Linked DNA regions of Homo sapiens: region 2 is linked to region 1. The links come from fine-mapping of genetic effects on gene expression. A gene starts in region 1. The other region holds a variant in brackets. All regions are shown on one strand. Distances are from middle to middle.

The links. PIP is the estimated chance that this variant, and not a neighbour inherited with it, causes the effect.
Region 2: its variant is fine-mapped to the expression of IFT122 in whole blood (TOPMed, PIP above 0.99).

What each region holds. Positions count from the first base shown.
Region 1 is chr3:129,434,620-129,445,963 of GRCh38, forward strand. It overlaps IFT122 (intraflagellar transport 122), which reads left to right and starts at 5,605. Exons shown (of 30, transcript NM_052989.3): 1 at 5,605-5,752. The coding sequence starts at 5,712. MBD4 (methyl-CpG binding domain 4, DNA glycosylase) reads right to left here and starts at 5,329. Exons shown (of 8, transcript NM_001276270.2): 1 at 5,111-5,329; 2 at 3,101-3,331; 3 at 1,842-2,689. The coding sequence starts at 5,214. RefSeq lists enhancers at 5,159-5,238, 5,329-5,468, 5,669-5,878, 6,029-6,078, 6,109-6,158 and 1 more.
Region 2 is chr3:129,508,744-129,520,087 of GRCh38, forward strand. IFT122 (intraflagellar transport 122) reads left to right here. Exons shown (of 30, transcript NM_052989.3): 24 at 3,569-3,669; 25 at 5,646-5,811; 26 at 6,745-6,856; 27 at 8,726-8,851; 28 at 10,364-10,443; 29 at 10,825-10,989. Among named protein-coding and RNA genes, the nearest start is that of RHO, 14 kb to the right of the region's middle. The variant T/C (reference allele first, on the strand shown) is at 6,673.

The DNA of each region.
Region 1 (11,344 bases):
ATGATCCCAATTTTATAAAAAAGGGGAAACATATATAAATAACAATACAGAAGTTAAGAATGAAATAAGCCAAAATGATATAATGGTTGTTGCCAAGTGCTAATTTTTCTTTCCTTCTTTACTTTTCTGTATTTTCCAAAATTTCTGCAGTGAACACTTACTTTTACGCTTACCAAAAAAAGGGATACAGACAAAACAGAATCTGCAGAAAAACCTACAATTTGAACCCTAGAACACCTGAGACAACTACCTATTGAGAACCTCTATCTATTGGGAACCAGTGTTATCAGACTTCTCAAATTTCTAAAATCACATGTAATACTCCTTAACCATACCCTCGCAATTTGAATATCAGTTAATAATACCTTGCATTTGTATAGCATCTTTTTCACTTCTCATTTTACAATATTTTTGATGTGAAAAACAGGACTAGTCAGGATGGTTACCTCTATTTTACAGATGAAGAAAGTGAAGCTTCTAAATGAAGCAATCATCCCAAAATGATACTGGGATTGACTATAAACTGGAACAAGTATCCAGGTCTCCAGATAATTAGACTACTGTTTTTTCGCTATTTTAGTTTGAGTAGGTAAAGCCCAGTAGAGAGTAAAAAAAAAAAAGAACAAAGGAAACTGCTCTGACTGCTCTGATTTGACAACTTTTTCTGTGGGCTCCTATGAATAATTACTAGTCTCCTTTATGCCAGGTTTACTTGGCAATTTCTAGCTAAGCCAATGGGTGTCTTCACTATTTCATGGACACCTCGTACTAAGAGTACTTCATCTCATGTTGAGAACTAGACTCTTACCACAAAAAAAAGTTTTTAATATTTGCCCATTTTGCTAGCAATAAATCTACATAAACCTCAAAGCTTTCTTCAAGAAGCTCAGTGTCTAGGACACAGACTTGAAGAATTCTTATGCAGTTCCTAGGTATATATGGCCATCTTGTGTTAAAGGCAGAGAAACTCCAGGCACAGAAAAGACATAAAATCATGGGTAGAACTGGGAACAAGAATCAAACCTAATCTCCTGCTTCACAAATTTCTCCAGGCTGTTTCCCCACAGGAGTTTAAGTAAAATTATTATTCTTTAAAGGAGTTATTCATTATACCATAATGGCATAATGAATAACTAATACAGGGCTGCTCAAAAGGTCTCCCTTTTATCTCTTATTCACTGAGGTATTATAAAGACAAAACTGCTAAGTTCTGAATTCTGTATTAAGAGCATATTACAAATAATAGATGAACTATGTGATTATACTTTTGAATTATTTAGAGCTCTAAAGCATTTTAGAGAAGCATTACATTAAAATAGAAGATAAAAATGACTATGATATATACAAAATTAAATTGGAAGTCACACTTAGTAGTAAGTATCAGGAGGGGTGTGAAGACACCAACTATTCTCCACTCATTTATGTATATAAGAAGCCTTCCCTAAATTTTTCACAAGTGAAGGCTTTTAATTTTCCTTCAAGTTTTAAGATTACTGGCTGGAAAGAGGATGGGAAGAAGGGAAAGCACTGCTGAGGAGGAGAGTCCCAGCTGCTGCACCAGGGAGAGACGATGGCAGCTGTTAATAGTAATACTCTCCTTTGCCATGGCATCACGACAGCAGTCAGCCGATTTTCTCTCTGCCATAGGAAACTGCTTGAATATCAGTTTAAGATAAAGTATTAGGATCAACTGGTATCTCATATTTGGCCCTATTTCTTGGCTCTATTTTCACATCTTAACCATGTATGGGCACGAATACAAGATGCAGCATTATAAATTTCTCATCACATAATGTTTAATAGTGCTTGAAAGCACTGGATACCTTGAAATATTTTCTCACCAGTGAAGTCTTTCCTGGTTGGTGAGCAGTTGTTGTCCATTTCAGAGCCACGTTTTAAAATGTCAGTATGCAAATGTTCTTTCCTTTCCACAACTTCTACTTTTGTTCCGATTTCTTCAGATTCTAAAAAGGTATCCTCATACTTCTCGTTGTGTTCTGAGTCTTTGGCTGAACAAAATTTGTTTATGATGCCAGAAGTTTTTTGTTCAGAACAAAAATTTGATCCTGAACTCAATGATCTTTCTTTTTTTTTTACAAGGCTGTTTTCTTCACTGGTCACACTGAGGGTCTCACCACATGCTCCAGCATCAGAAATGCAGACAGTTCTATCAAGCTGACTTTTTTGTGCAACAGGTTCACTTTCAGCATCTGCTTTATTACACACAGATTCTCTTTTGCTATCACTTTGAACAAAACCTGAACAGCTCTTCCTACATCCTTTTTTAGTTTTCTTAATTGGGATTCCTTTCAAAATAGTCACCTTTCCTTTGGGCTTTCTAACCTTTCTGAAGTTAACATCATCAACACCCTCATCTTCTTTCAAAAGCAAATGAGTGGAAGTAAAGTTAGAGAGTCCTCTGCTCTCCTGCAACTCTGAACTACTACTTGGCGGCATAAACACATCCTTTTTGCACTTGCTTCGGGTCCTGAGGTTCCAGTTTGAATTGTTACTTTGGTTTTGTAGATGGGATGTCAGGGCTGCCATGCTGCAGTCTTTATATCTTGACTTGATACCCCTTTTAGAAAGTACAGTAAAATCAAAATCTTCTGGCTTAAGAGAAGTCTCTCCATTTTTGTGAAGATAATTAGCAAGTGAACTTTTGGATCTGAACTTCAGTCCTTGTGGGCTAGAAAATGATATTAAAGGAAACTTACTGCTAGTAAATAGAAGGGACTTTTAAAAGAACTGGACCACATTTCAGATTTCTAATTAATTTCCAAATGTTGCCATAGGTATCTGTCATTTAAAAATGAAAAAGAGTGATAAATGGCACTTTTAAATGGTTTCCTCTATGACAATATAAATTTATAAATATAACTAAAATGCAACCTACCCGTTAACCATTCACAGAAGGAGGGACAAAATGTATGTAATTTTCCCCAAATCACTTGATGTAATTAATAGCAACATTGAAAGAATAGAATCTGCAATGGTTTTATGGTAAAAATATAAAGAAGCTAAGATTCCTGCTATGCTCCCACTACCTGCCCAGACAAAATCATTTGGCTGTACTATCTTTACCATCTTATATGCTTACCTGATAAAGTACACATCAAATCTTCCTGCTGTCTTCCCAAATAACCTTTGCTTCACAACTCTTTCCCATCCACATGGGACAGACTTACGGCATTCTGTTCCTGCAGTAGCACCAAACTGAGCAGAAGCGATGGGTTCTTGTAGCAAGGGATTACATTCACTGCTTCTTTTTATCATCATTTGTTCCTCATCTTCTCCCACTCTTTCCAATTCCATAGCAACATCTTCTTTGCTGGAAAAACAAAGTCTAAGTGATTAACTTATTTAAAATTTATCTTCCACTGCCTACTCAGTTTTAATCCATGACAATGCAGGAACCACATAGATTATCCATATTAAAATGAGGGAGATTAAAGTCAGTGTGGACCAGTCTTGTGCTATGGGAGTATTTTCCTGTCTTCCAAAAGCTTCCCATATCCTCTAGCACAGGTTAAAAGGTGTTGGAAATCTCTGCACAACAAAAAAGTCAAGCTAGAAACTTTTCGGATTAATCACTGAGTAGGGCTATTATAAAGATTTCTGGGGGCACTTACCATAAATTTGAGAATATGAACCAATAGCTAAGCTCTTAAGCACCAGAAAATGCTTAAATAAATCAGTGAGTTACACTGTCTTCTCTGCAAATAAATGAGGTAAAAGTTTTACATAATGTAAAATTTCTGGGAGAGAGTGTGTATCACTTTCATCAGATGTAATCCTCCAGAAGGTAAATAATTTGATACAGAATTTTTGAATCTTCTTCATTCTTGATCCTCATGGTAACCTTGTAGGTACAATAAGGTTTACTCTCAATTTATTGATAAAATTGAGTGACAGGTTAAATTACTTGCAGAACAGACACGAGAACCCAAGTCTACCAAATCTTGGTCTAATACTTCTCCCCCATACTGTTATTGAAAAAAGCTGGCAAGGCAAGGTGGCTCATTCCTGTAATGCTAGCACTTTGGGAGGAGGAAGTGGGAAGATCACCTGATCCCAAGAGTTTGAGACCAGCCTGGAGAGCACAGTGAGATCCTCGTCTTTGCAAAAAATGAAAAAAAAAACCCAAAAAAACAAAAAAAAACAAGCAACCGGGCGTGGTGGAGCATACCTGTGGTCCCAGCTACTAAGGAGGCCGGGGTAGGAGGACTGCTTAAGTCCGGCAGGTCAAGGCTTCAGGGAGCTATGATTGTGCCACTGCACTCCAGCCTGGGTGACAGAGCGAGACCTCATCTCAAAAAAAAACCCACTAAACTAAAACTTCATTAAAGTTCCAATGTGTCTTCTATGATGAAAACATACTTTTAAAATTAAAAAAAAAATTTCAGTAAAGTGTATCCTAATCACTAAACCACAGATTGTAAAAGGTGGATGGGTCTAGAGAGATCATTTAACCCAAGTTCTTTTCTACAAATAGGGAAACTGCAAGAACTAGAATTAGAATCAAGGTTTTCTGATGTAATTTGGGGTAAAATAATTTTGAGGAGCTGGATGGATCTTATGAAATGATATTGTTTACAATTTTAGAGATAAAAATACTGAAGCCTGGTGGAATCAGCACAAACTCTTAAGAGACTGGGGCTCAAATTCCAGCTCTACCAGCTGTAAGTTTAGCAGCAAGTTACTTAACATCTCAAAGTCTCGGTAAAAGACTCTGTAAAAAGAAGGTGATGCCTCTTTCAAAGTAGTTCTTAGTATTAAATTTTGAAAAAAGTAGGTAAATCTTAACCTCCTATCACACACGTAGTCTAATGACTTCCTAGGATCCTCCAACCCCAAGGGGACCTCTTTCACAAAACCTCCCGGCTCCCCCCCAGTCTCCCTAGTCATCTTAGATGAGGAAGTCGAGCGCACCCCAGGGCTGATCGCACAGGAAGAGCACCTGGGCTCCAGACCCTAGTAACTAAACCCGTGGGCTTCGAGGTTTCTGCCGACCCTCTGTCAAAGGTTAGAAAGGCCCACACACTGTCCACTCTCCCGATACCATTTTACAGGTGGTGAAACTGAGGCCCAAAAGGGGACAGTAACTTACCGGAGGTCATTCGGCGGGTCTGGGACTAGGCGCTCACTAGAGGTGACGGTGGGGGCAGCTCCGCGGTCCCCCAGACTCAGACTCTCCAGCCCAGTCGTGCCCATCGAGCAGGGTCCGGCTGCAGCAACGAGCCCAGCGCCGCAACGCCCAGGGTGTGGGGCGGAGTAAGATGTGAAACCTCTTCAGCTCACGGCACCGGGCTGCAACCGAGGTCTGAATGTTGCGAAAGCGCCCCAGACGCCGCCGCTGCTTTCCGGCCGCCCCCTCGGCTACAGCCGCCATTTCCACGCTCCACCAATCAAATCCATTCTCGAGGAAGACGCACCGCCCCCACACGCCCCGACCAATCGCTCGCGCTCTGGTTGCGCTGGCGCCTTAGGGGCTCCAGTGCCACCATTGCTTTTGCTGCTTTTCTGGCTTTCCCTTTCGGACATGCGCGCTCGGAGCAAGGCGCCCTCGCACTCAGCTTACCGCGCATGTACGTTGCCAGGGGTAACGCAGGTAGCCAAAGTGGCTTGTGGAGTGGCGACCGTTAGTGAGGCGGTTGCTGAGACAGACGCTGAGGCGGGTAGGAGGAGCCCGAGCCGTAAGGGAAGCCGTGATGAGGGCCGTGTTGACGTGGAGAGATAAAGCCGAGCACTGGTGAGGAGCGGGGCGGTTCGCGAAGAGCAGGAGGTCGAGTCCTCGCGGGGAGTGCGCGAGCCGCTGCAGCGTGTTTGAGGGGGGCAGCGGGCTTGCTGCCTGGGCCGAGGGCACTGAACCCCGGCCTGGGAGACTGCAGGGTCGCCCTCCCGCCCCTTGGCGGTTGGAGAAACTCCCGAGGGTTGGAGAGCGGCAAAGGGAGGTGCCGCGCCTGAGGTGGTGGCGGGTGGAGGCGGCTCTTCCCTCACGGTCTGGCCCTGTCGCTGCCTTGGATTCATCTCACACCCACGAGACAGCACGAAGCTGCTCAAGCTTCACAGTTCTTGCCACATCCACATAGTACCCATACTCTTGTTTTCTTGACGTTTTTCTCTAAATTGTCTCATTTATTTTAATTATGATTTCACATTTTACAAGGAAACTTTATTACTCCATTTATGAAAACCAGTGTCACTTGCTCTAAATGTTAAGATAAAATCAGCGTCGCTTGCTCTAAGTGTAAAAGTAAAACTTAAAGTAGGGAGAAACAAAACTGAACAAGCTGTAGCTAGCTATTGTTGCTAGGGAGCCTTTAAACCTGAGATCTCGTTTCTCTAAAACTGGAGATGGGCAGGTATGATCAGAAAGGTGCTCAAAATGAGCACCAAACACAAGCTCTCCTAATTGGGAAGTCTGAAAAAGAACTGAAGGGGAATGACTTTGTCACCTTTTGATTCAGTTATTTAATGTCCTATTCCATTGTTATCGCCTAAATCTATAACATAGCAGTCTGTTTTGTCATATTCTTACTTATGGGATAGGTCTTGGCCTGACTTTGAAAATCATTCAGCATTGTTGTGAAGCCTCTGTTCTGGCCACTGGAGCAGGTTACTTGTCTTTGGTTCTGTCCCTTCTGAGATCTTTCTCTGTGTAAAGCATGCCGTCTCTCCTCATCTCACACGGAAATCCTGAACATCCTTCAAGGCTCACGTTGGAGACGGGTCCTCTCTTTTGTGTTCGGCACTAGTGGTAGCTGACACTATGTGCCAGGTGCTGGCTAAGCACTTCATATCCTTTATCTCGTTGTGTCTTCACCACTCTCTAAGGTAGGTACTATAATTTCCTCTATTTTATGTATGAGGAAACTGAAGCCCAGAGAGGGTGGATAATTTGCCAGCGTCACACAGTGAGGGGTGGAACCAGCTTTCAAGCTCAGGTCTTCCTCACTCCAACGTCAACGCTCTCAGCCACTACATTAATTTTTCCTTATGTTACAGACGTGGCAAACTCAAATGTCTGCAGGAGACAGGCAGGTAACATAAATGGGAGATGTTTATTTGCATCTTCAACACTAGGAATTGTATGTTTTCCCTAGGAATAGTCTTGTATTCTGTACCCCATTTTTCTTGAAACACAGCCGTATCAGTGAATCTTTCATTTGTACTTTTAATAGAGATTTGAGTTTTAAAAAATCATTTTACTTTTAACTTTATTATAAACGTACCTATAGCACAAGCTGATGATAGCTGGCAACTGAACATTTGGCTTCAATGTCAGAGTAATAGAGTGTGGCAAACTGCAGAGCTCATGCTCGGCCTAAAAGGGGCAGCTGCTGCTCAGCTCCTGCCAATTACCACCATGCAGGAATTTGGCCTAGTGTGCTCAGCTCTTCCTGTTTTTACCAGAAGCTAGGAATCTGGGTTTTTATGTGAAATGGCCTAATTTTTAAATGTTAGCATCCACTCTGAAAAAAAAACAAAACACCGTGTGGGCCAAATAAAACATTTGCTGGCCGAATGCAGCCTGATTTGCTCTGTTTTCAACCCCTGGCACAGAATTTTGTTCATTTCTCTCTTGTGGTACTTCCAGAGTCTGTTGAGCATAAGAGTTAATTTTTTAAATCTGTTTAATTCAGAAGTCTAATAAACCCGTTAAAGGCAATGGCTATGTCTTACTCGTTTCCAAATTATTCTAGAGACAGGTCAGTGGTTGTTGTTACTATGGATAGTAATAAAATACTAGATATATATAAAACGAAATACTGTGGGTAGATGTATTCATACGTGAATGAATGATGAATAAAGATTGGTTTTCTGGTTTTTGGCCCATTACAGATTTGAGACAACCTATTAGGATAAGGGATGTAGGGGTTCTATAGACCATCAATCCTGATGGCTGCTAGATATACCAGCTGATAGCCCAGAATGAAAACAAAACAAAAAACTAAACAAAAAAAAAAAAGACAGTAGAACTAAAAAAATCCTAGATGTCAAAGATTAGTCCTCCACATCCAAATCAGCCATTGTCTCCCGGTCTGCTCCTTTGCTTCTATTTTAACCTTCACATAGCAGCAGGAACTCTGTTTTTTTAAGACCTGCTGCTGTGATCCTGTTACTCTACTTCTCATAAACCTAGAGTGATTCCCAATTACTTTCCATGTCAAGTCGTGCATTTTGCTAGAGGGTCCTCCTGACCCTCCTCCCCATCAGGCTTGCAACATTTAAATTTATACTTTTAGGTTGAGCTGAAAACTCTATTTTTCTACCCGAAGATCCTTCCCAAATGCTCCCTTATTCTATGAACTCCCTAGTTTTCTCCTTTAAATGCACAGCTCCAGGTTCATCTCAACCAGGATGTCTTATTAGGCTAGCCCACTGTATTCCAATCAGGCTAGCATCTGCTGTAACTCTCCATTCATGCCAGCTAGTATTTACTGAGTACTTGCTATAGGCCACATGTCCACATGTCTTTATAGGTGTTATCATGTTTAATCTCTACAACATGTGAGGTTGGAATTTTCATCTCATTTAAAGATGAAGAAATTGAGATTTAATGAGGTGACATAAGTTACCTAAGATTACAAAATGAGTAAGTGGGGCTGGGTCAGATGATGCAGGAATTGGAGAGGCACTGTGGGACATTGGTTTACAGTGAGGTGGGTGCAGGGTTGTCAGAGGACAATTTGCAGGATTCCTCTGTATCTCTGCAATGGAATCTGACAGTGTGTCTTCTGACAGTGTATCTCTTTTATAAAAAGAGGCAGGTGGAGAGAGAACCATCCTACAGTAGAATAGACTGCCTGCAAATGAGTGAGCTCCCAGCCCTGGAGTGTTCAAGCAGGGGCTAGATGGCCATCTATAAGGAATTCTTGCCCTGATGGGCCAGATGGACTGCATGACAAGGTCTAGAGTCCTTTCCAATTCTGAGTTTCTGGTGATTTCATAATTATATTTATTACATGTCTAGGACAGTGCCATGCACTGTGGGTCCACAAATATGTAGAACATGGCCATTGCTTTCAAATTGTGTATGACTATAATTAAAGGGGCAAGGCAAGATAATATCTAACACAATGTAAAGAAGACTGTATAAGTCAGAGCTAAACTGAAATGTACAGATTCTAAGTACATTAAGAGTTTAGATTGGGGCAAATCAGACATATATGATATATTTTAGGAAGGCAAATTTCAAGATATTCAGAGAAAATGAATTTTTATATCTAAGAGGAAGAATGTTCAGGCTTGGCTCAAATGAGACATTCAGAAATGATTTTGTGATAATTCAACCCAAAATGACCCTTATGAAGAAGAGGTCACACAGGAATCACTTTGATGAGCTCATATGTGTACAAGGCAGAAAGGAAGCCACATACCAAGGATGACTTTAGATGAGAGGTGCAGACACTGCTCCAACATCTAATAATCCACCATAGCAATCCACAAGTGTCAGGCGCTTTGGATAGACTGGCTTGTGCACCCCGTGAGTAGGAGGCTACCTCTCTATCCTTGTTTTGTAGGTGAGAATGAAAGCTCAGATAGGAGATCAGCTTTTCTGGCCCCACGTCCCCCCTACTTTTTATTCCGCCATGCTGCTTCTCAAAATGTGAAATGTGCCAAGGCTCAGAGGAAGAAAGCGTAAGAAACAAGGAAGGCCCAGGTCTGTTACCACATAATGGTGAGGAAGCTGAAAAACTCAGGGCTTCAGTTTGCCCAGCTGGAAAGAGTGTGATAATCATCCTTGTTCCAGCTTCTTTATCAGCCAGCTCTGTGACTAGGAGCAAACAACTTGCCTCTCTGTACTTTAGTTTCCTCATTGGTAAAATCGGGGCAGTGGTGCCTGTCCTGTCTACTACATTATGTTTTCGTAAGGATCAAATAAGATAATGTAAGTTTACACTCTTTTTTTTTTTTGAGACAGAGTCTCGCTCTGTTGCCAGGCTGGAGTGCAGTGGCGCAATCTCGGCTCACTGCAAGCTCCGCCTCCCAGGTTCAAGCCATTCTCCTGCCTCAGCCTCCCGAGTAGGTGGGACTACAGGTGTGCACCACCACGCCCAGCTAATTTCTGTATTTTTAGTAGAGATACAGTTTCACCATGTTGGCCAGGATGGTCTCCATCTCTTGACCTCGTGATCTGCCTGCCTCGGCCTCCCAAAATGCTAAGATTATAGGCGTGAGCCACCATGTCTGGCCAAGTTTACACTCTTTAACAATTCTTAAATATTGAATAACTGTGAAGAGTTTTTATTAAAGGAAGCGTCAGGTCAACAGAGCCATATTAAAAGCTTTCTGAATTCTTCATGTAATGCCTTAAGTAGGTAATAATACCTTTTTTTGACATATGCCAACAATGATAATGGCAGCCACATAGCATAATGGTTAAAACATGGGCTTCAGGCCAGATTGCCTGGGTTTGAGGCCGGATGCAGTGGCTCACACTTAAAATCCCAGCACTTTGGGAGGCTGAGGCAGATGGATCACTTGAGGTCAGGAGTTCGAGACCAGCCTGGCCAACATGGTAAAACCCTGTCTTTACCAAAAATACAAAAATGACCTGGGTGTGGTGGCAGGCACCTGTCATCCCAGCTACTCAGGAGGCTAAGGCAGGAGAATCGATTGAAACTGGGAGGCAGAGGTTGCTGTGAGCCAAGATCCTGCTACTGCACTCCAGCCTGGGTGACAGAGCAAGACTCCACCTCAAAAAAAACAAAAACAAAAACAAAAAAACAGATTGCCTTGGTTTGAATCCTGGCTCCATTTCCATTCAGTAGCACTTTATTTTCAGGCAAGTTATTTAACTTCTCTGTACCATAGTTTTCTCATCTGTGAAACAGGTATACAGTTGTTTTGAGGTTAACATGAGTTAATACATGTAAAGCATTTAAGCTGTACCTGGCATACACAATAATAAATGTGTTCAATAAATGTTAGTCACTGTTATTAAAGTATGAAGGATAACAGATTTGACATACTTGGCAGTAATTCAAGGGAGCAGAAGGCAGCATAGCGCGTTAATTACAAGCACAGACTCTAGAGTCAGACCTGAGTTGAAATCCTGGCCCTTGCACTTGCTAGTTGTGTGACATCAGGCAAACTACTTGACCTCTCTGAGCCATGGTATCCTCATCTACAAAACAGAGTAATAATTCCTACCTCACAGAATTATTGTGGAGATGAAATAAAATAATGCATTTTAAGAGCTCAGCAGGTGCTGTCTGGAATAAGAGTTCGAAGTACTGTCATTGAGAGTGTACTTCCAAGTTACTGACAAAAGCTTGATTTTTAGATTACTGGTATAAACCAAAAATAAAATTCAGAGGCCCCCCAACCATCTGAA
Region 2 (11,344 bases), 74 kb after region 1:
GCAAAAAGTTGTTGAGATGGTTGAAGAAGTGGTAGTTGGTTAGCAAGAGGTCAGGTGAATATTGCGATGAGGCAAAATTTTGAAGTATTGGTTGTGTGATGTGCAGTCAGGTGGGTGGAGAAGAATTGGGCCCTTTCTGTGAACCAGTGCCAGCTGCAGGTGTTGCAGTTTTCGGTGCATCTCCTCGATTTGCTGAGCATACTTCTCAAATGTAATCATTTCACCAGGATCAGACAACTGTAGTGGATCAGACCAGCAGCAGACCACCAAACAGTGATCATGACCTTTTTTTGGTGCAAGTTTGGCTTTGGGAACTGCTTTGGAGCTTTTTCTCAGTCCAGCCGTGGAGCTGGTCATCACGGTTGTCATGTAAAGTCCACTTTTTGTCACACCTCACATCTGATTGAGAAATGTTTTGTTGTTGTTGCATAGAATAAGAAAAGACAACACTTCAAAACGACTATATTTTCATTTTCTATCAGCTCATGAGGCACCCACTTATCAAGCTTTTTCACCTTCCCAATTTGCTTCAAATGCCAAACAACCGTAGAATGGTTGACATTGAGTTCTTCGGCAACTTCTCCTGTAGTTGTGAGAGGATCAGCTTCGATGATTGCTCTCGGTTGTTGTCAACTTCCAGTGGCCGGCCACTATGCTCCTCATCTTCAAGCCTCTCATCTCCTTTGCAAAACTTCTTGAACCACCACTGCACTGTATGTTTGTTAGCAGTTCCTGGGCCAAATGCGTTGTCGATGTTACGAGTTGTCTCTGTTGCTTTATGACCCATTTTGAACTCAAATAAGAAAACTGCTTGAATTTGTTTTTTGTCTAACATCATTTGCATAGTCTAAAATAAACAGTAAGTAATAACTCATTAGCAAAAAAACATAAAGCGAGAAATGCCCGTTGAAATGATGTATAACATAACCACATTTAAGAATGTATTCTACTATCAAACAGCAAATTCCAGAGCCAATATGTGAGTCTCAGTAGTCTGGCACTGGAGCCTGTGTTCCTAGCCTTTCCCTCCCTGTCTCCTTTTAGAGAAAGCAGGCTAGTATGTTGGTTTAGTGGGTAAACTCGAGAGTCCTCACACACAAATGACACTGTGTTACTTATCTTCTCTGGCCTTCAGCTTCTTTCTCTATAAAATAGGGATAACAGCACTATGTACTTGATGGGATTGTTTTGAGGATTAGACGAGTTAATATTGGAAGAGTACCTAGCACAGAGTGACCCTAGGTGGCAGCTATCCTTACTGCTGCTCCAGGCAAGGCTTCACGCCAGCTTTCCCTGACCTGCTCCCTCCAGCTGGGCATCTAGCATTTCTCTTTTTTCAGAGATGAGGTCTCTGTCGCCCAAGGTGGAGTGCAGTGTCATGATCATAGCTCATGGCAGCCTCAAACTGCTGGACTCAAGTGATCCTCCTGCCTGAGCCTCCCAGAGCACTGGGATTACAGGCATGAGCCACCACGCCCAGCCTTCCCGCCGTTCTTTGACCTCTCAAATGCCCTGCCTTCCACCTTGGGCATTTCTTTCCCTCTAATCTGTGCTGACTTCTCAGCACATTTTTTGCCTCTTGGGAAAGTCTGGCAAGAAGGACTCCTGACAGGCTCTGTGCATGCCGTCAGTCTAGTGTTACATCTCTTCCCACAGCAGGGTCAGTGGTCTCAAGGGACCTCATCTTCCCTTACAGTCTTTGGCTTTCCTGAAACGAGACCCCCTCAGGGTCCCTCATCTTTATCAGGTGCTCACCTGGAGAGAAACCACCACAAAAGGAGCCCAGACTCAACTTAGGCTGGAAGTCAGGGCCCAGCTCAGCCTCACTTTGCCCAAGCCACTCCAGAGCCTGGCTCTCAGCTCCTTCCCTCAGACTTTTCTCTCGCTGCTCCCTGTCCTCTTCCTCACCTGGGGCATGGGGCTGAGGGCTCCTGTCTCTAACAGCTGAGCTCTGCTCCAGGACCTACATGGGACTAGGAGCTAAGGGGCCTCAGACCAGCTGGGGCCCTGGCTCTTATCCCAGCTGAATCTTATTAATTGGGCCATTCCTTCATTCAATAAATGCCTACTACGTGACAGACCCTGTGATGAGACCTGGTGACACGGTGGTGAACAAAACGTTGTCCCTGCAGTCAGTCCCAGTCTAGCAAACAGGACAATCCCTCAGGGGAAACGTTTAGAGGCCTGTGAAGAGACTTCCTGGAGGAGGTGTCCTCTCAGCCAGAAGGAGGGAGAGAATAAAAATGGGGCAAGTGAAGTGGAGGAGGATTAGGAAGGGTGTTTGTGGCAAAGGTCACAGCCTGTGCAAAGGCCTGGAGGTGAGTGGTAGTTTGTGGTTCAGCATCCAGGGCCCAGCAGAGCAGCACTGATTCAGGGCAAGACTGGAAAGGGAAGTTCAGGTCCTTCCTGGATACATGGCATCTTTCCCAGAGGAAAGGACTCCCCTGCTACCTATTCTCTCTGGGACGTTACTTAGCTTCCCTACCTAGTGCAGTAGAACCACAGGCAGAGTTCATCTTGTTCTTACCCTGGAAAGGATGTGGTCTCAGGTTTTCTTGGGTTCTTGGAGCTAACAAAAGGTATAGAAATTTACGTGTGAACTAAATAGAAAATGCTAAGCTCTGAACTGAAGAAGTGTAGAGCAAAGTGAGTCCTCAGGAGTTCAGACCAATTAGGGGTTAAGCTTTGGTGGCTCAGTGATGAGTAGGGCCTCACAAGACCCTTCTTAAGTGCTCACAAGAAAGAGGAGTTACTGGCCTGCTGTAATCCTCACCATCTAAAGCTTTATTAGAAATGGGCAATCTCAGTTTATATACAGTGTGCCAGATGCCTTCAAAATAAGGTATTCTTAACCTTTTGTAGACCCTCACACAGAAAATTCCTTATTTGTCTGCTGAGCTTCTGGCAGCCTCTAGGTACGAAGACCAATCACTAATCTGTGCTAACTGCCTCCTGTTAGTGCCTATGCCAGGAGCCAGGGAAATGGGTCAGCAGTTGAGGAACTCCGCATGTGTGCTCGTTTGGTGGCACATCAGTCAAGCTGCTGTTGGAAAGCACAGAAGAGGCATGTGGGTTCATGCTGGAGAGGGCTAAATGCCTCTGTTGAAAGACAGGCTTATATGAATCAGTGGTTATGTCCTAAGCTGCATAGAAGGTCTTCTCTTTTAGAGCTAATTGGAGACAACTTGAGTAGTTCAGAGAAATGGAATAATTACCAACTCCAGAGGCAGTACAGCTTGGAAGAAAGACATTCTTGGGCTTTGGAATCAGACCTGGGTTTGAACAGCAGCTCAGCTCTGTTCTAGTTGGTGACTTGGGCAAATCATCTATCTAGGTGTCGGTTTCCTCATCAGTACTGTGAGGATAAAAATGCATACCACAAGGTTATTATGTTAAAGACCAGATGAGACAGTGGCTATATGGCGCTCAGCACACAGTAGGAGTAGGTGCTCAATAATCAGAGCCGCTCTTGTTGATGTCACTCAGAATTATTGGTGTCTGCCTTTTGGCCTGGCCCAGCAGCAGCTCTTGAAGAACTCAATCCCTGTTTGCTTTTCTCTCACTGCAGGAAGATCCGTTCAGTGTCCATCGTCCTGAAACTCTTTTCAACATCTCCAGGTTCCTGCTGCACAGCCTGCCCAAGGACACCCCCTCGGGCATCTCTAAAGTGTATCCTTTCTCTTATCCCTCCTCCGTCCCACCACCGTTCTTGTCTAATGGCCCCAAGAAATTCCTTCCAGAGCACTTTCCTGGCAGAACCTTCCTCTCTCAGCAACCCTCAGGGAAGACAGAGAACTCACCCTCCCGCTGCTGTTTGGCTATAGAGGCTCAGCAGGGAGGCCCAGGGGCCCAGGCCAAGAGAAGATGAGTTTTCAGGGCTCTCTGAGCTGAACCCAGCAGTGGGTCTCTGGCCAACACACTGTCCCAATCCCTCCTAGAACCCACAGATGAGGGTGTGACTGAAATGGAAGAAGCACCAGGCCTTCAGGCTTGGAACCTTGGGCACTTCTCCAGACTGGGGAGGAGGGAGTGTTTGTTCAGCCCAGGTATACATAGCACCTTCTGTGCCCCAAGCCCTGGGCCAGGCACCAGGTGGCAAAGCTGCCATCAAAGAGGGAGGTCACAAGTTAGGGTCTGGTTTGGTGGATGTGTGCTGTGTCTGAGGGTGGAATGAAGCTGAGGTCAGGGCCATGGTCAGGGAAGTTTACCTGGAGGAGGAGATGTCCATCATGCAAGCTGAGGCAGCCAGGGAAGATGGCCAAGTGGATGTTCCAGGGGAGGACCCAGCATATGGAGAGGCAAGCAAGGCATGTGGGAGAGGGTGAGGGGACCCTGGGTGGGAGGGGCCGGAGAGGCAGCAGGACCCAAGGCCTGAGAGCCTACCTTTGGGTTTTCCTCTCTTCTGTAGCCATCGAGGGCCACAGTGGTACCATAAGCAGAGCAGGTGCCTGAAGGGCCTGTGCAGCCAGATACTGGATCATTACCAGGCAATGATCCAGATTTTTAAGGTCTTGGATGTCAGGAGACATAATTGTCCCTGTTCTTTTCTAAATCTCACTGTACTCTCAGCTCCTTCCCAGCCGCAGCCCCACCTTCCCTCTGTAAGGAAAACCCACTCCACTGGAGAAGACCCAGAGCTCCTTGTTGTAAGAATTGGCCTCGCTAGAGGATTCCAGGCCCATTATGTACATTTCAGGGGAAATACCCTCAAATCAAGGGGTGCCTTCCTGGAGTCAGACCTCTGCTGCATGCGTCTCCGTCTTTCCCCGTAGGAGCAGTCAGGGCTATGCCTGTGGGGGCTGAGCACCTGTACTCATCCTTTCCAGCAAGTTCTGTTTGAGTCAACAGCTTGATAGAACCTCTACCCTGAGCCTTACCCTGTGCCATCCCCTGGGGACCTGGAAATGGCTCCTGACAGTCCCTGACTTTGAGGAGTCATGCTGGAGACACAGAAGGAAACTCTCCACAGAACTGCTGAAGTGGACGGGGCTGCACTGCAGACGGCGGGAGCAGGAACACTGGGAGAGATGCGGGAGGAAGGGCAGGAGGGCCTGGGGGCAGCCAACATCGGAGGTGACCTGAGAGGAGAGCACAAAGGCTCGTCAGCCTCTGGCTGAGGAGCTTCAAGGGGGCCCCAGAGCACAGGCTGCCGCTCAGAAACTGCCCACCAGGCCCTCGGGGAAGGGTGTGCAGACAGAGTGGGGTACACCCAGGGGCCTCAGAGCAGGGTTGAGGGTGGCTCCCCAGGGAGTCTGGACCAGGCCCCACCTGGCAGGGTGAGAGCAGAGTGCCCTTTGTGCCAGGCATCCTAGGAGGGCCTGGCTGGCAGGTTTGGTGAGGCAGGAAGAGCCATTTTGGCCTAGTCAGGGTATAAGATGAGCCATCAGCAGGCCCAGAGATGCTAAGCAAGGTTAAAGTATTAATGGAAACTACGCTGTTTTTATCTTTGGAAAAATTCCTGGGCCTTGCCATCCGAGAAGTACACTCACCTCTCACAAGCGCACAGAGCCTTCCTCACGGTCTTTCCTCTGCCTTCCCGGCACCAGCACAAGCTGTGTTCCAGCCTGGGGCTCACTCCAAGGACAGGCAGTGCCAGCTCCTGGGCCTGGTGTTGCCCCTGCTGTCCTTAACCCTGTTCACGGCAGGAAAATACTCTTCACCTTGGCCAAGCAGAGCAAGGCCCTCGGTGCCTACAGGCTGGCCCGGCACGCCTATGACAAGCTGCGTGGCCTGTACATCCCTGCCAGATTCCAAAAGTCCATTGAGCTGGGTACCCTGACCATCCGCGCCAAGCCCTTCCACGACAGTGAGGTGAGGATGCAGCACCCTTGGGCAGGTGGCTTCTCCTCTCCCTTGAGGCCATCTCATGCCTTCTTGCCTGGCCTGGGTTCCGTTTGAAGAGAGACAGCTGCAGCTCCCTCTAGGCTCTGTGCCCCCTGCTCAAGCCTGGCCATGCCAGCTCCCCTGTGCTTCCCTGTCCACCTCCTGTTCTCCCCGCAGTCCACCTGGCGCCCGCTCACAGCCCCCGGCCCCGGCCTCAGCCCTCAGCCTGGCCTCCCTTGCTCCTTGCCCTCCCCTAGGCAAGCCCCACACCTCTGTGCCCAGGTGGCTCTGCCTTTACCCCAGGCCTGGCCCCAGAGCTGACTCTTACTCTAGAAACCTCTGCCCTTTCTGGAACCAGGCTGTAGTTCTCCAGCAAATCTACCCCACACTCCCAACCCACATTCCTTCAACCCAGCCAGCTTCCTTCTTTCACACATCCTCCCTCAAGCTCAGAGCAAGGACTTGGTTCAGACAGACCTGGGTTCACATCCCGGCTCCACCCTCTCCTAGCTCTGTCTCCATCTTTCTGCACCTTGGGTTCCCCCTTTCCCACAGGTAGTTGTGAGGCTAAATGAGCCAGTATAGTCCACGTGCTCCGCACGGTGCCCGGAGCATGGTAAATGGCTGGCTAATGGTGGCAGCGGCCACTGTCATTCCTGCCAGGGGAAAAGTGCCGTTGAGCGCTGCCTGTGCAGGTGTCTTGGGCACGGGGACCCAAGTGACAGGGCTTGGGTATTTCGGCAGGCCTTTATCCTGCTTCCCCATGGCATGGAGCTCCTGGGCCCGGCGCCCCTTCCCTGCCTGCCCACCCGGGTGGCCTTTCCTCTTGGCAGCCAGGCCCCAGGGGCC[T/C]GAAGCCAGAGTCCAGGGGGAGGAGGACACGTGCCTGCCCCGGCCCCTCGGGAGTCCGTGGCTGTTTTGTAGGAGTTGGTGCCCTTGTGCTACCGCTGCTCCACCAACAACCCGCTGCTCAACAACCTGGGCAACGTCTGCATCAACTGCCGCCAGCCCTTCATCTTCTCCGCCTCTTCCTACGGTGAGTCCCTGCATCCTGAGCATGTGGGTGGGACAGCCTGTGGACAGCCAGGCTCACTCCACTGCTCTCTGGCCTCAGGACGTTGGGCAAGGGCCAAAGGCCTCTGAATGTCCCTGTTTATGAAATGAGGACACTCTGACGCCCACCTACCTGACACAAGGAGTCACTGTCGGTGTTCCCAGAGATAGGACCCACTGCTGCCCAAAGCTGAAGCACCCACTCTGGGAACCTGGCGCAGGGCTTTACATAACCAAATGCCCCAGAAAGAGAGTCCGATGGCTTTGCATTCAGACCAGGAGGCTGAGATAGGTTATCAAGGCCCAGCTCCTTTGATGTTGACAGAGGATCAGAAGCCCCTTCCCAGGAGCTGAGCAGAGGCCACACACACACACAGACACACACGCACACACAGACTGCCCCTGCACACACACACATACAGAAACTGCCCCTGCACACACACACACAGACTGTCCCTGAACACACACACAGACTGCTCCTGCACACACACACACAGACTGCCCCTGCACACACAGAGACTGCCCCTGCACACACACACAGAGACCGCCCCTGCACACACACACACAGAAACCGCCCCTGCACACACACGGAGACTGCCTCTGCACACACACACAGACTGCCCCTGCGTGCACACACAGACTGCCCCTACACACACACAGATTGCTCCTGCACACACACACACACACACACAGAGACTGCCCCTGCACACACACAGAGACTGCCCCTGCACACACACACAGAGACTGCCCCTGCACACACACACAGAGACTGCTCCTGCACACACATACAGAGACTGCCCCTGCACACACACACAGACTGCCCCTGCCCACACACACAGAGACCGCCCCTGCACACACACATGGAGACTGCCCCTGCACACACACATGGAGACTGCCCCTGCGTGCACACACAGAGACTGCCCCTGCACACACACAGATTGCTCCTGCACACACACACACACAGAGAGACTGCCCCTGCACACACACAGAGACTGCCCCTGCACACACACACACACACGGAGACTGCCCCTACACACACACACAGAAACTGCCCCTGCACACACACAGATTGCTCCTGCACACACACACACACACACACACACACACACAGAGAGACTGCCCCTGCACACACACACACAGACTGCCCCTGCACACAGACACACAGAGACCGCTCCTGCACACACACAGAGACTGCCCCTGCACACACACACAGAGACTGCCCCTGCACACACACACACACAGAGGCTGCCCCTGCACACACACAGACCGCTCCTGCACACAGACACACAGAGACCGCTCCTGCACACACACGGAGACTGCCCCTGCACACACACAGAGACTGCCCCTACACACACACACACAGACTGCCCCTGCACACACACACACACAGAAACTGCCCCTGCACACACACAGATTGCTCCTGCACACACACACACACACACACAGACTGCCCCTGCACACACACACAGAGACTGCCCCTGCACACAGACACACAGAGACCGCTCCTGCACACACACATGGAGACTGCCCCTGCACACACACGGAGACTGCCTCTGCACACACACAGAGACTGCCCCTACACACACACACAGACTGCCCCTGCACACACACACACACAGAAACTGCCCCTGCACACACACACATTGCTCCTGCACACACACACACACACACACACACACACACACAGAGACTGCTCCTGCACACACATACAGAGACTGCCCCTGCTGCCTCTTCTTGCTTTTGGTGAAGCTGCCAGTGGGTTGAGAAGCAACTCTGTGGTCACCCCACCTGCCTGGCGGCAAGTCCTTTGCAAGGCCTCCAGCCCCCTCAGCCCTTTCTCTATGCCCTCCAGACGTGCTACACCTGGTTGAGTTCTACCTGGAGGAAGGGATCACTGATGAAGAAGCCATCTCCCTCATCGACCTGGAGGTGCTGAGACCCAAGCGGGATGACAGACAGCTAGAGATTGCAAACAACAGTATCCATGCCCTTGGCCAGAGCCTGTGTGTGCGGCTGTGTGAGGGGTCTGGGGACAGGCGGGAAGTAGGAGGGCCCAGTCCCAGGGGATCGCGGGCCATGCTGAGCCTGGCCCTGTGTTCCCAGAGAGATTGGAGAGGCCCACATGGGACAGGGACAGGGATCAGAGATGGGCAGACAGCTGGCCAGGGCCTAAGGACCCAGAAGTGGCAAGTGGCACCTTGGTCTTCCCGTGTGGGTCTCCCACCCTCCCCTGACCCCTAAAAGGCACTGGCTGTGCCTCTGTCTGTGCATAGCTCCTGCATAGCCAACATGGGACATGATGTCATGATGTCGGTGTTGGCCCCCAGCTCTTCCACTCAAGTCACTTTCGCATGCAAGTGACAGAGTCCAAAACTGACAAGCTGAACAAGCAAAGGGTGTGCAAGGAAGCCCCAAGCAGGAGAGGAAGCTTCCTGGCCCAGCGCTCAGTCTGGTCGGTCACAGGCTGGCTCTGCCTCTCTTGGCCGCACTGTCCTCTGGGCAACTTCATTCTTTGGCAGCCCCGTGGTGCCCCCATAACACAGAGATGTCAGGAGCAGTGCCAGCCCCACATCCCCTCAGCCTTATAGCCCCCAGAAACAGCCAGCTTTCCTCTCAGCTGTGGCAGTGAAAGCCCCGGGGCACAGCTCAGCCTGCCCCTTGGCCAGGAGGATGCACCAGGGCAGTTGTCCAGGGCAGGCCACACTTGCAGGCTGGACATGGGAGGGGCTTCTGGCAGGGAACAGCACACACGTGGCCTGAGGCCTCGCTCCCTTGCACTGACTGAGTCTGCAGGCCTGGGGGCTGTAAGCCTGCCTTCCTTGCAGCTCCCAGGTGCTGCCACCCCCAGGGGCCACACTGGGAGGAGGGAAGCTCAGAGAGCTGCTTGCTGAAGGAAAGACGGACCCATCTCTGCCACCCAGGCTCCCTCAGGTGCCACAGATGATATGTGCTATGGTGCTGGCAGGTGGGTGCTGTGCCCACTCCAACTTGGTACCAGCAGTCCCCATGTCCTGGGCCTCCCTGCAGGACCCCTGCTGGCCTCTGTTACCAGCCCCACCACTGTGGGAGAGGGGCGGTTTCCAGGGACCTCCAGGTGAGTCTGACCCGCCCTGGGGTCAGCAGGGACTCTCGCCCCTGTCTGCTCCATCACAAGTGCCCGCAGACCCCCAGCAGCCACTGAATGTTTCTCCAGGATCCCTGGGCCCATCCCCTCCGTGCCTACCCGCAGTGGCTCACAGGGCCCGCATGTGCTTCCCACTGGCCCTGGGAGCTATGGTGTGTGTGGCCTGCGAGGGGAATGGGTGAGGGCAGCAGGGCCAGCAGAGTCCCTTCCTTCTGATTCCTTGGCCTGAGCCCCCTCTGTTCCTCCACCTGGAAAACTCTTCCACTGGTCTGGCTGCCCTTGAGTCTTCTCACAGGGGTGTAGGGTGGAGGCTAGGGTCTGTCTCCATCTCTGCTTCTGATTCCATCCTTGACCAGATCCCTCCAGGCTCCCAGATTCTGCGGCTAGTGGAGACCAAGGACTCCATCGGAGATGAGGACCCGTTCACAGCTAAGCTGAGCTTTGAGGTGAGGGTGCCTCTCTGGGTGACCTGCAGGAGGGCAGCCTCCATCCCTTCTCCTGTGCACATGGGGACCCTCAGCTAGCGCAGTGGTGGAGGAGGATTGGCCAGAACTTCCAGATGTGGTGGCACGAAGGAGGGGCAGGACCCCTTCCTGTGGGGTGTGGGAGCCATGGCTGCCCCCGAGGGACCATGGCCAAGGGCGCAGGTCTGTGGACAGGGAGGCAGCTTCAGCTCTGGTGGGAGGAGCTTGCCACTGTTAGGGTCACCTGGGTTTAGGAAGCAGGTCCTCTCTCACCACTGCCAAAGATTCCAGGATCATAATCCACACAGATGTCTCACTGTGGCTGAGTGAGGACACTGTGCCTCCTTCCCGCCCACCCTGCAGCAAGGTGGCTCAGAGTTCGTGCCAGTGGTGGTGAGCCGGCTGGTGCTGCGCTCCATGAGCCGCCGGGATGTCCTCATCAAGCGATGGCCCCCACCCCTGAGGTGGCAATACTTCCGCTCACTGCTGCCTGACGCCTCCATTACCATGTGCCCCTCCTGCTTCCAGGTAGGTGGCCACCCTGGTAGCTCACATGTGCTTCTCTTGGCCACTTTTCCCTTGCCCAAATGTCCCTCTGGGAGGCGTGGCCCCTGGGAGGAGGGGCACATCCATGGCTCCAAGTTGGGACAGAGGCTTGTCTGTCCTCTCCCCTGCTTGCATTCCATGTGCATCTAAAGTGGACTTCACTGGCCCCTGCGCTGTCCACATCCTCCCCAAATCCTGGGGGCCCAGCAAGCGTGATGTGCCCTTGACCTTCACTCAGAAAACAAGAAACCCCACAGCCCCCTCCCATCTCCCCTTCCAGCCCTCAAACAAAGGTGCTGCAGGTCTGTGTCCAGCCCTGACCACTGCCAAGCCCCCT